Linked DNA regions of Homo sapiens: region 2 is linked to region 1. The links come from fine-mapping of genetic effects on gene expression. Tissue or cell type: nucleus accumbens. Region 1 holds a variant in brackets; the other region holds the start of a gene. All regions are shown on one strand. Distances are from middle to middle.

Region 1 (4,262 bases):
CTGTTAGTCCGATGGGCTTTCCTTTGTGGGTAACCCGACCTTTCTCTCTGGTTGCCCTTAACATTTTTTCCTTCATTTCAACTTTGATGAATCTGACAATTATGTGTCTTGGAATTGCTCTTCTCGAGGAGTATCTTTGTGGTGTTCTCTGTATTTCCTGAATTTGAATGTTGGCCTGCCTTGCTAGATTGGGGAAGTTCTCCTGGATAATATCCTGCAGAGTGTTTTCCAACTTGGTTCCATTCTCCCCGTCACTTTCAGGTACATCAATTAGATGTAGATTTGGTATTTTCACATAGTCCCATATTTCTTGGAGGCTTTGTTCGTTTCTTTTTATTCTTTTTTCTCTAAACTTCTCTTCATGCTTCATTTCATTCATTTCGTCTTCCATCGCTGATACCCTTTCTTCCAGTTGATCGCATCCGTTACTGAGGCTTGTGCATTTGTCACGTAGTTCTCGTGCCTGGTTTTCAGCTCCATCAGGTCCTTTAAGGACTTCTCTGCATTGGTTATTCTAGTTAGCCATTCATCTAATCTTTTTTCAAGGTTTTTAACTTCTTTGCCATGGGTTCAAACTTCCTCCTTTAGCTTGGAGTAGTTTGATCTTCTGAAGACTTCCTCTCTCAACTCGTCAAAGTCATTCTCCATCCAGCTTTGTTCTGTTGCTGGTGAGGAGCTGTGTTCCTTTGGAGGAGGAGAGGCACTCTGATTTTTAGAGTTTCCGGTTTTTCTGCTCTGTATTTTCCCCATTTTTGTGGTTTTATCTACCTTTGGTCTTTGATGATGGTGATGTACAGATGGGTTTTTGGTGTGGATGTCCTTTCTGTTTGTTAGTTTTCCTTCTAACAGTCAGGACCCTCAGCTGCAGGTGTGTTGGAGTTTACTGGAGGTCCACTCCAGACCCTGTTTGCCTGGGTATCAGCAGCGGAGGCTGCAGAACAGTGGATATTGGTGAACAGCAAATGTTGCTGTCTGATCGTTCCTCTGGAAGTTTTGTCTCAGAGGAGTACCCGGCCGTGTGAGGTGTCAGTCTGCCCCTACTGGGGGCTGCCTCCCAGTTAGGCTACTCGGGAGTCAGGGACCCACTTGAGGAGGCAGTCTGTCCATTCTCAGATCTCAAGCTGCGTGCTGGGAGAACCACTACTCTCTTCAAAGCTGTCAGACAGGGACATTTAAGTCTGCAGAGGTTATTGCTGTCTTTTGTTTGTCTGCCCTGCCCCCAGAGGTGGAGCCTACAGAAGCAGGCAGGCCTGCTTGAGCTGTGGTGGGCTCCACCCAGTTCGAGCTTCCTGGCTGCTTTGTTTACCTACTCAAGCCTGAGCAATGGCGGGCGCCCCTCCCCCAGCCTCACTGCCACCTTGCAGTTTGATCTCAGACTGCTGTGCTAGCAATGAGGGAGGCTCCGTGGGCATAGGACCCTTCGAGCTAGGTGCGGGATATAATCTCCTGGTGTGCCGTTTGTTAAGCCCATTGGAAGAGCGCAGTATTAGGGTGGGAGTGACCCAATTTTCCAGGTGCCTTCTGTCACCCCTTTCTTTGACTAGGAAAGGGAATTCCCTGACCCCTTGAGCTTCCTGGGTGAGGCAATGCTTTGCTCTGCTTCAGCTCACGCACGGTGCACTGCACCCACTGTCTGGCACTCCCTAGTGAGATGAACCTGGTACCTCAGTTGGAAATGCAGAAATCACCCATCTGCTGCGTCGCTCACGCTGGGAGCTGTAGACTGGAACTGTTCCTATTCGGCCATCTTGGCTAAGACTTAAGTCTACATTTCTATTATCATTTCTTATTATGTGCAATCTTTTTTTTTTTTTTGAGATGGAGTCTTGCTTTGGTGCCCAGGCTGGAGTGCAATGATGCAATCTCGGCTCACTGCAACCTCTGCCTCCTGGGTTCAAGTGATTCTCCTGCCTCAGCCTTCCAAGTAGCTGGGACTATTATAGGCACATGCCACCATGCCTGGCTAATTTTTTTGTATTTTTAGTAGAGACAGGGTTTCACCATGTTAGCCAGGA[C/T]GGTCTCAGTCTCCTGACCTTGTGATCTGCCCACCTTGGCCTCCCAAAGGGCTGGGATTACAGGCGTGAGCCACTGTGCCCAGCCTGTCATGTGCAATCTTGAGTATCACTGCTGTGTGGTGGTGGGGACAGTGAGATGAAGCTGAGGGAGAGGAAAAACCTCATTGCTTAGCTTCCAGTTAACTGAATGGGGTATAGGCAAAACATCATCACACGTACAACCTCCTTACCTGTCCTCTTTCTTTCCTCACTATTCCATGTGCTTTCTTATCTCCCTTCTAGTGTAACATCAGAGAAGGGGTGTACTCTGTGCCCTAGAACTAGGAGCTAACAGAGAAAAACCAAATGTGATGTGGAGTCTGCTAGACAGGCTACTGGAGCAAGAGTGAAGCGATGAAAGTCTCATCATTGGGACATATTAGGTGAGTCACTTCCCTTACACCAGCCTCATCTATTCAACAGGATAATAATTCCCAATCTTCCTGACCACTCAAGAATACTCTGGAGATTAACAATGAACTCATATGGGAAAGCAAACTGTGATCTTAGGTGGGAGGGAAGGACCAGTCACTTTTGAGTAATTACCTTAACAGAGACAATCCAGATGTCCTAGAGTTCTCCATGGTGGGCATTAAATTAATGGCACAGTAATGTGAGGTGTTTTCATCAGAATTTTGCCAAGTATGGTTCGTGGACTACTTCATCAAAATCATCATGGATTGCCTGTTAAAATAGTAGATATTTGGGTCTACCATAAGTCAGCTGAATGAAAAACAGGGAGATGTGGTGGCAGGTATCTATATTTTGAGAAATTTTTCCAATTGGTTGTGGTACTCATCCATGTTTGAAAAGCACTGCTGTGGATTTGCAACAAGGTCTATGAAAAATTTGAATCCTTTCATGTCTAATTTCATCATTGGTTGCTCCTACTACTTTGCTTTTAATATCTGTGTCATTTCTGTTTTGTGAAATAGGTACCAGTTCCTTTAATTCAGTAATTTTCATTCAGTGATTTATGTGTGGAGCATTGATCTAAGCACCGGGGAAACAGCACAGAGAACAAGACAAACATGGTCCCCGGACATATCATTTCTAGTTTGAGAAAACTGGTAATAAGTAGGTAAACAGATCAATGAGCAGGGTAATTTCATATGGGGATTTGTGTTTTAACACATATAGAGTATTAAATGACCAAGATAAAGATAATTACAGATGGGGTTGTAAGTGAAGCTCCTTTTCAGGAAGTGACATTTGAGCTGAGTCCTGGATAACAAAAAGAAGCTAGGCACAGACTGACTTTTTGCCAGTGTGTATACAATGTGCATGGGCACCGTGTGTTCCAAGAGCAGGGAAAAGCTCAAGTGCCTAGAGCCTGGCAGACAATGCACAGACTGGTGAGATGAGGTTGAAGGGGCAGATAGGAGCAATATTGTTTAAGCCATTGTAAGGAGTTTGGATTGTATTGTGAGTGTGGAGGGTTAGAGAATGGGAACAATATCATCTGACTCATGTTTTCAGAAAGTGACTCTGGTCACTGTGCAAAGAATGGACTAGAGAGGGAGAAGATAGTGTGTGAGAATAACCATTAGAAAATATTGCGGAAGTCTAGGGAGGAGCAAGCTGATGGTATCAATGCTGCAGCCATGTGTAGAGGGAGAAATGGACCTTGACAGTATGTGTTTGGAGGTAGGGAGGGTAAGACCTGTAGTAGCTGTGTGTGTGAAGTATGTGGGGATAAGGCAGAATAAAGTATGACCCCTCAGCTTTTTGTACAGCCATGTGGAAAAACGATAGTGCTATTTTGTGAGATCAGTCATTCCAAGTGCTTTTGAGATGTTCTTAAGTTAATTAAAATTTAGGTCATCCAAGGTTGGTTGTAGTGAAAATTAGAGATTTTAAGAATGCAGGTTGTGTATTTCAAAATAGTTAAGAGAATAATTTAGATGTTTCTAGCATAAAGAAAACAAATAGTTAAGGTGATGGATATCTCAGTTATACTGATATGATCTTTACAAATATATGAGTGTGTTAAATTTTCACATGTACCCCCCAAAATATGTAACCCTATATTATATATCAATTGAAAAAATAAATAAAGGTAATAGTAATGTTCAAAAAAAGAGATATCCTTGCTGATTCCCACTTTATAGATGAGAAACTGAGTGGCAGAGAGAATAAGGACTTTGCCTGAGACTACACAGTTAGGGAGTGGGACAGCTTGGATTTGTGTCCAGGATGTCATGCTTC
Region 2 (4,521 bases), 56 kb before region 1:
AGGGATGTCAGATTTTCGCTCTATTCAGGTCTCCAGATGATTGGATGAGGACCACCCACATTATAGAGGGCAGTCTGCTTTATTCAGCGTCCACTAATTTAAATGTTAATCTCATCCAAAACCGTCCTTACAGAAACACTCAGAATAATGATGATGAGATATATGGGTACCATGGCCCAGTCAAGTTGATGCATAAAATTAACCATCATACTTACACTAAAAAATTATTCATTTTTATCTGGAATTTAGATTTAACTGGATATCCTCTATTTTATCTGGTTGCCCTAAACATGGGGACTCTGTGCTGAACCAAGGTGCTCCAGGAAGCAACCCCAACTGAGCTGCAGGTGGCATCAGCACCAATTGTCTTTCATGTGAGTAAACTCTCTTGGATGTCCCAGTGGAGTGTAGCCCCACAGCCCCGCGAAACATACACCACATGCAGCAGAAAACACATTGCTGAGCTCAGTCAACACTCAGATTTCTGAGAGATAATAAATGGTTTGTTTTGGGGTATTCGTTAGGTAGAAATGGTTATCTAAAACATGGTTTGGGTGAACTTTTCCCCTTTTTCTGTACTTTGTTATCATTGGATATCAAAGGGATTCTCTTATCCTTGAAGGCTTGGTGGGACATTGTTATACTAATAATTTTGAGTATAGTCTCTGTGTTTGTTTGTGTGTGTGTATAAATTTCTGAATATTTAGTCAATTCCTTCTTGAAGGAATTTTCAATGGAAGCTATCACAATATATGATTTTCAACCTACTCTGAATTTAGAACCTAATTCCATGAGATGAGCCTCTATTGAAATCACATGAATTAAGGTACTGACAAAGTGTTGTCACAAATGACTCCACGGGGAAAGCCTCAGAGATTGGCTTTGGCTTGGTGAGTATTCGTTCTGAACAAGGGTTATTTACGTACTTTAAGAAGTGTTTCTGAAAGAAGAGATCTTGAAACTCTTTCTCCTGCTACAGGGGATAGCCTTGCAAGGAAGCTACTTTCCATGGGAACACATAGGACTCCTGCACCAGACAGCAGCTTGATATGCATTGCAGTCCTTGGCCTTTATGATTTTCCTGTCATGGCACTACTTGGTGGATAAATCTTTTTCAATTCTGTGGATCCTTCATAGGAAGCCCACATGCCAGCAAATCTAAGTCATCTTCTCCAGTATCTTCTTTATGAGGAATAAAGTCCATGTATTTTTCTTCTTTCATCTATTTATTACTTGATTTCAAGCTTAGACTTGAAGCATGGAGGTAAATTGCTTAAAAAATCCAAGCAATTTGGAGAAAGACAATAGAAATAGTTGAGCCAGTGAGGCACAGAAAGAGGAGTAGCACTGTGGGCCTATTGTAAGATCTACCTCTGGGCTGGGCTCGGTGGCTCATGCTTGTAATCCCAGCACTTTGGGAGGCCGAGGCAGGCGGATCACCTGAGGTCAGGAGTTCAAGACCAGCCTAACCAACAGGGAGAAACCCTGTCTCTACTAAAAATAAAAATTAGCTGGGTGTGGTGGTGCATGCGTGTAATCCCAGCTACTCAGGAGGCTGAGACAGGAGAATTGCTTGAACCCGGGAGGCGGAGGTTGCAGTGAGCCAAGATTGTGCCATTGCACTCCAGCCTGGGCAACAAGAGTGAAACAGTGAAACCCCATCTCAAAAAAAAAAAAAAAAAAAGATCCACCTCTGAGGGCAGGGAAGAACAAGTGCTCCTGAAGAGCAGCTTACTACCAAGAATTTTGAAGGGAGGCAGCCTGGGCAATGCAACCCCTTTTTCTTCTTCCCAACTCACCAATTAGAGAAGTTCCTCCTGTGACAGAAAAGGATTGAGTGTATAGAGAGTCTAGAAATGTTGTGGTCATGAATGTCCCTCCACATGTAGGAATGAAGGATAAGAATTTTCTCAAGACAAACCATTGCATGGTTGAATTGATTAGGTTTCTAGGCTTGCATTACTGAAATAACTCTGAGATATCTTAAATGACTTATTTTGTTGTTCCTAGATCTTTTAGTCACATGATTATAGACAGTCTTAGTTTTCTGCCACAGATGGATAACTGATTAGTGTGGTGTGTGAACTGTACATGCTCCTCCTCAGTGAGCTAGCTTATCTCCAAGAGCTCCAGGTCTCTGTGCACTGGTGATATTCCTCTACTGTCACTTTTAAACAAAACTACTGACAACCGGGACATTGTTCCATCAAACCTGGCAGAATTCTATCAATTGGCTCCGTCCCAGCCTAGTTCCTCTAATTATTATAGCTACCCAGGAAGCCGCCTGAAGAGTGAAGCCATTTTCTCTTTGTGAAAGCCAAGGAGTCAAAAGGCCACTCTATGGCATTTCCGGTGTGCTGGACCAGCCTGCGTATCACGGTTGCCATAGAAACCTGACGTCATAACGGCGACCGTGAAGACTTTTAAAATAGAGACCAACGTGGCCGGGCAGGAAGAGCAGGGTCCCGCCTTCAGGTGTTTGGGACTCAGCTGAGGGTGTGGGTGCCCCGCGGTGGGGGCTGAACCTTCCTGGGGTGTGGAGAGACGAAAGGAGCCCAGATCCAAGTTCCCTCGTTCCCGCTTTGGCATAAGTTGCCCTGGCGGTCTCATGAGAGAGAGAAAGAGCTGGGACCCTCCTCGCCCCAGTGAGTGTGATGTCTTGCTCCGGGTGTCCTGGGGCAACTTTCTATACAGGCGGGACGTGGGAGGATCAGACAGGTAAGGACTCTCTGAGCCCAGCGTCCCGTTCTGTAAAATGAGGATAAGAATGCACACCCACAGGATTGCTGCAACCTGCAGTGATAACACAGGTGCAAGATGATAGATAGCCCTGTGGTTGTTATGGGACGATGGGTGCTTTATGGATTCAGGCTATTTCTTTTCTTTTATTTTTTGAAAACAACAGAAATTTATTATTTTACAGTTTTGGAGTTCAAAAGTCCAAAGTAGGTCTCACTGGGCTAAAATCAAGGTGTCAGCAGGGCTATGTTCCTTCTGGAAGTTCTAGTGTAGAATGAATTTTCGTTTTTTTCCAGCTTCTAGAAGCTGCTGGCATTCCTTGGCTCATGCCCTCACATTACTCTAACCTCCATATTGTGGTCACATCTACTTCTCCGATTTTATTGCCTCCCTATTTCCCTCATAAAGACCCTTGTAATTATATCAGGCCCACCCATATGATCCAGAATAACCTCACCATTTTAAGATCATTAACTTAATCACATCTGTAAAGTCCATTTTACCATGTAATGTAACATATTCACTTGTTCCAGAGATTAGGACATGGATTTCTTTGGGGCAGAGGAGTGTTATTCAGCCTACAGCACAGTTGTATATTAGATACTGTGCTGGATAGCCTCAATTTGTCTCTTCAAAGCTTCCACCCCTCACCACCCTACTCTGTGCTTCACAGGTCTGATCCTTATAGATTACATCAACTCAGATCCCTTCTCCTTAGGCTTCCAGTTGGGTTTGGCCAATGGGAGATACTAGCAAGTGAGTGAGGGAAAGATGGGGTATGTGTCCCCAGTGCCAGATTCCTTGGTGTTGGGCTACAGGTTGGTAGTGGTTGTGTTCCTCTACCAAGGGCTCAGGCAGTTTCCTCATTCTTTTTTAAAGTTGTTATTAGGTGATAGATGGAAAGGAGAAGAAAAGGCCCTGGTGAGAAACTCATTGTTCCTTCTGTTGTTATGATCACTACCTGATTGTGTCAGTGTCATTGGTCACTAATTCAGTGCCCAGCATGGTTGCAGGCACAGAGTCACTTCAATAAAGCATAGTGATTGCTGGAGTCTGTCTCTCCCCAGGAAGCACTTCACGGGGGCAACTAAACTTATATCAGGTGTCTGAAGGAGGTGGGTTCTGATGATCTAGGTCATGATGACTGCTGAAGCTTCTACTTCAGATTTGCAGGACAGCAGTCCTCAGGAGATCTCTAGCACTTCCATCCTTGGTGGGATATGATGCCTGGCTCAAGTGAGTTCATAGATCTGAGCAGAAGTATGTTGCAGAATAGTAGCTGTGTAGTTCACAAAGTAGTCTAAAAGTAGAGCAGCCACTTTGATCTTATCACTGGAAAAGAGGCTCAACAGGTGGATTTCATTGCGTGCATCAGCAGCTACATGCTTTGTAGTATCCCTTGAGGCCCATTTGGAGCTACCTTTCTTAAAGCAATGAATTGTTCAGTTGGGGAAGAAACTTGATATTTAACATGCATTTGTAATAAATTTACACATAGTTTTCTGACTGTATAAATAATAATTCATTATTCCCATGTATCTCGGATGGAAGTTGAAATATGCAGGTGGTTAGAAGGTCTTCATAGCAATTTGAGATTGTAATATGCATGCTTTCATGGTTAGCGTGTTTTCATCCATTCTGCAATGTAATTTTTTAAGAGGCCAGGAATTTATTAAGTGTTAGTTAAATGTCAGGTACAAGAATTTAGTATTTTTGAAAATAACAATTACTTGATAGTTTGCCCAATTATAATGATACCTAGTCACATCTCCTAAAATAACC

Which allele goes with the higher level. Alleles are on the strand shown, and positions count from the first base shown. SD is a standard deviation of normalised expression in the study named.
In carriers of allele T in region 1, the expression in nucleus accumbens of the gene that starts at base 2,402 in region 2 tends to be lower than with C alone (small effect, 0.25 SD a copy in GTEx).

What was found. PIP is the estimated chance that this variant, and not a neighbour inherited with it, causes the effect. A credible set is the group of variants that fine-mapping cannot tell apart.
Region 2: LL0XNC01-250H12.3 starts here. The variant in region 1 is the best candidate, but not a certain one, in a credible set for the expression of LL0XNC01-250H12.3 in nucleus accumbens (GTEx, PIP 0.77).

The regions. Positions count from the first base shown.
Region 1 is chrX:103,458,918-103,463,179 of GRCh38, forward strand. It overlaps LL0XNC01-250H12.3 (a long non-coding RNA gene), which reads left to right. Exons shown (of 6, transcript NR_188440.1): 4 at 2,298-2,437. Among named protein-coding and RNA genes, the nearest start is that of LL0XNC01-250H12.3, 56 kb to the left of the region's middle. RefSeq lists an enhancer at 1,260-1,759. The variant C/T (reference allele first, on the strand shown) is at 2,016.
Region 2 is chrX:103,402,379-103,406,899 of GRCh38, forward strand. It overlaps LL0XNC01-250H12.3 (a long non-coding RNA gene), which reads left to right and starts at 2,402. Exons shown (of 6, transcript NR_188440.1): 1 at 2,402-2,718. RefSeq lists an enhancer at 2,393-2,562.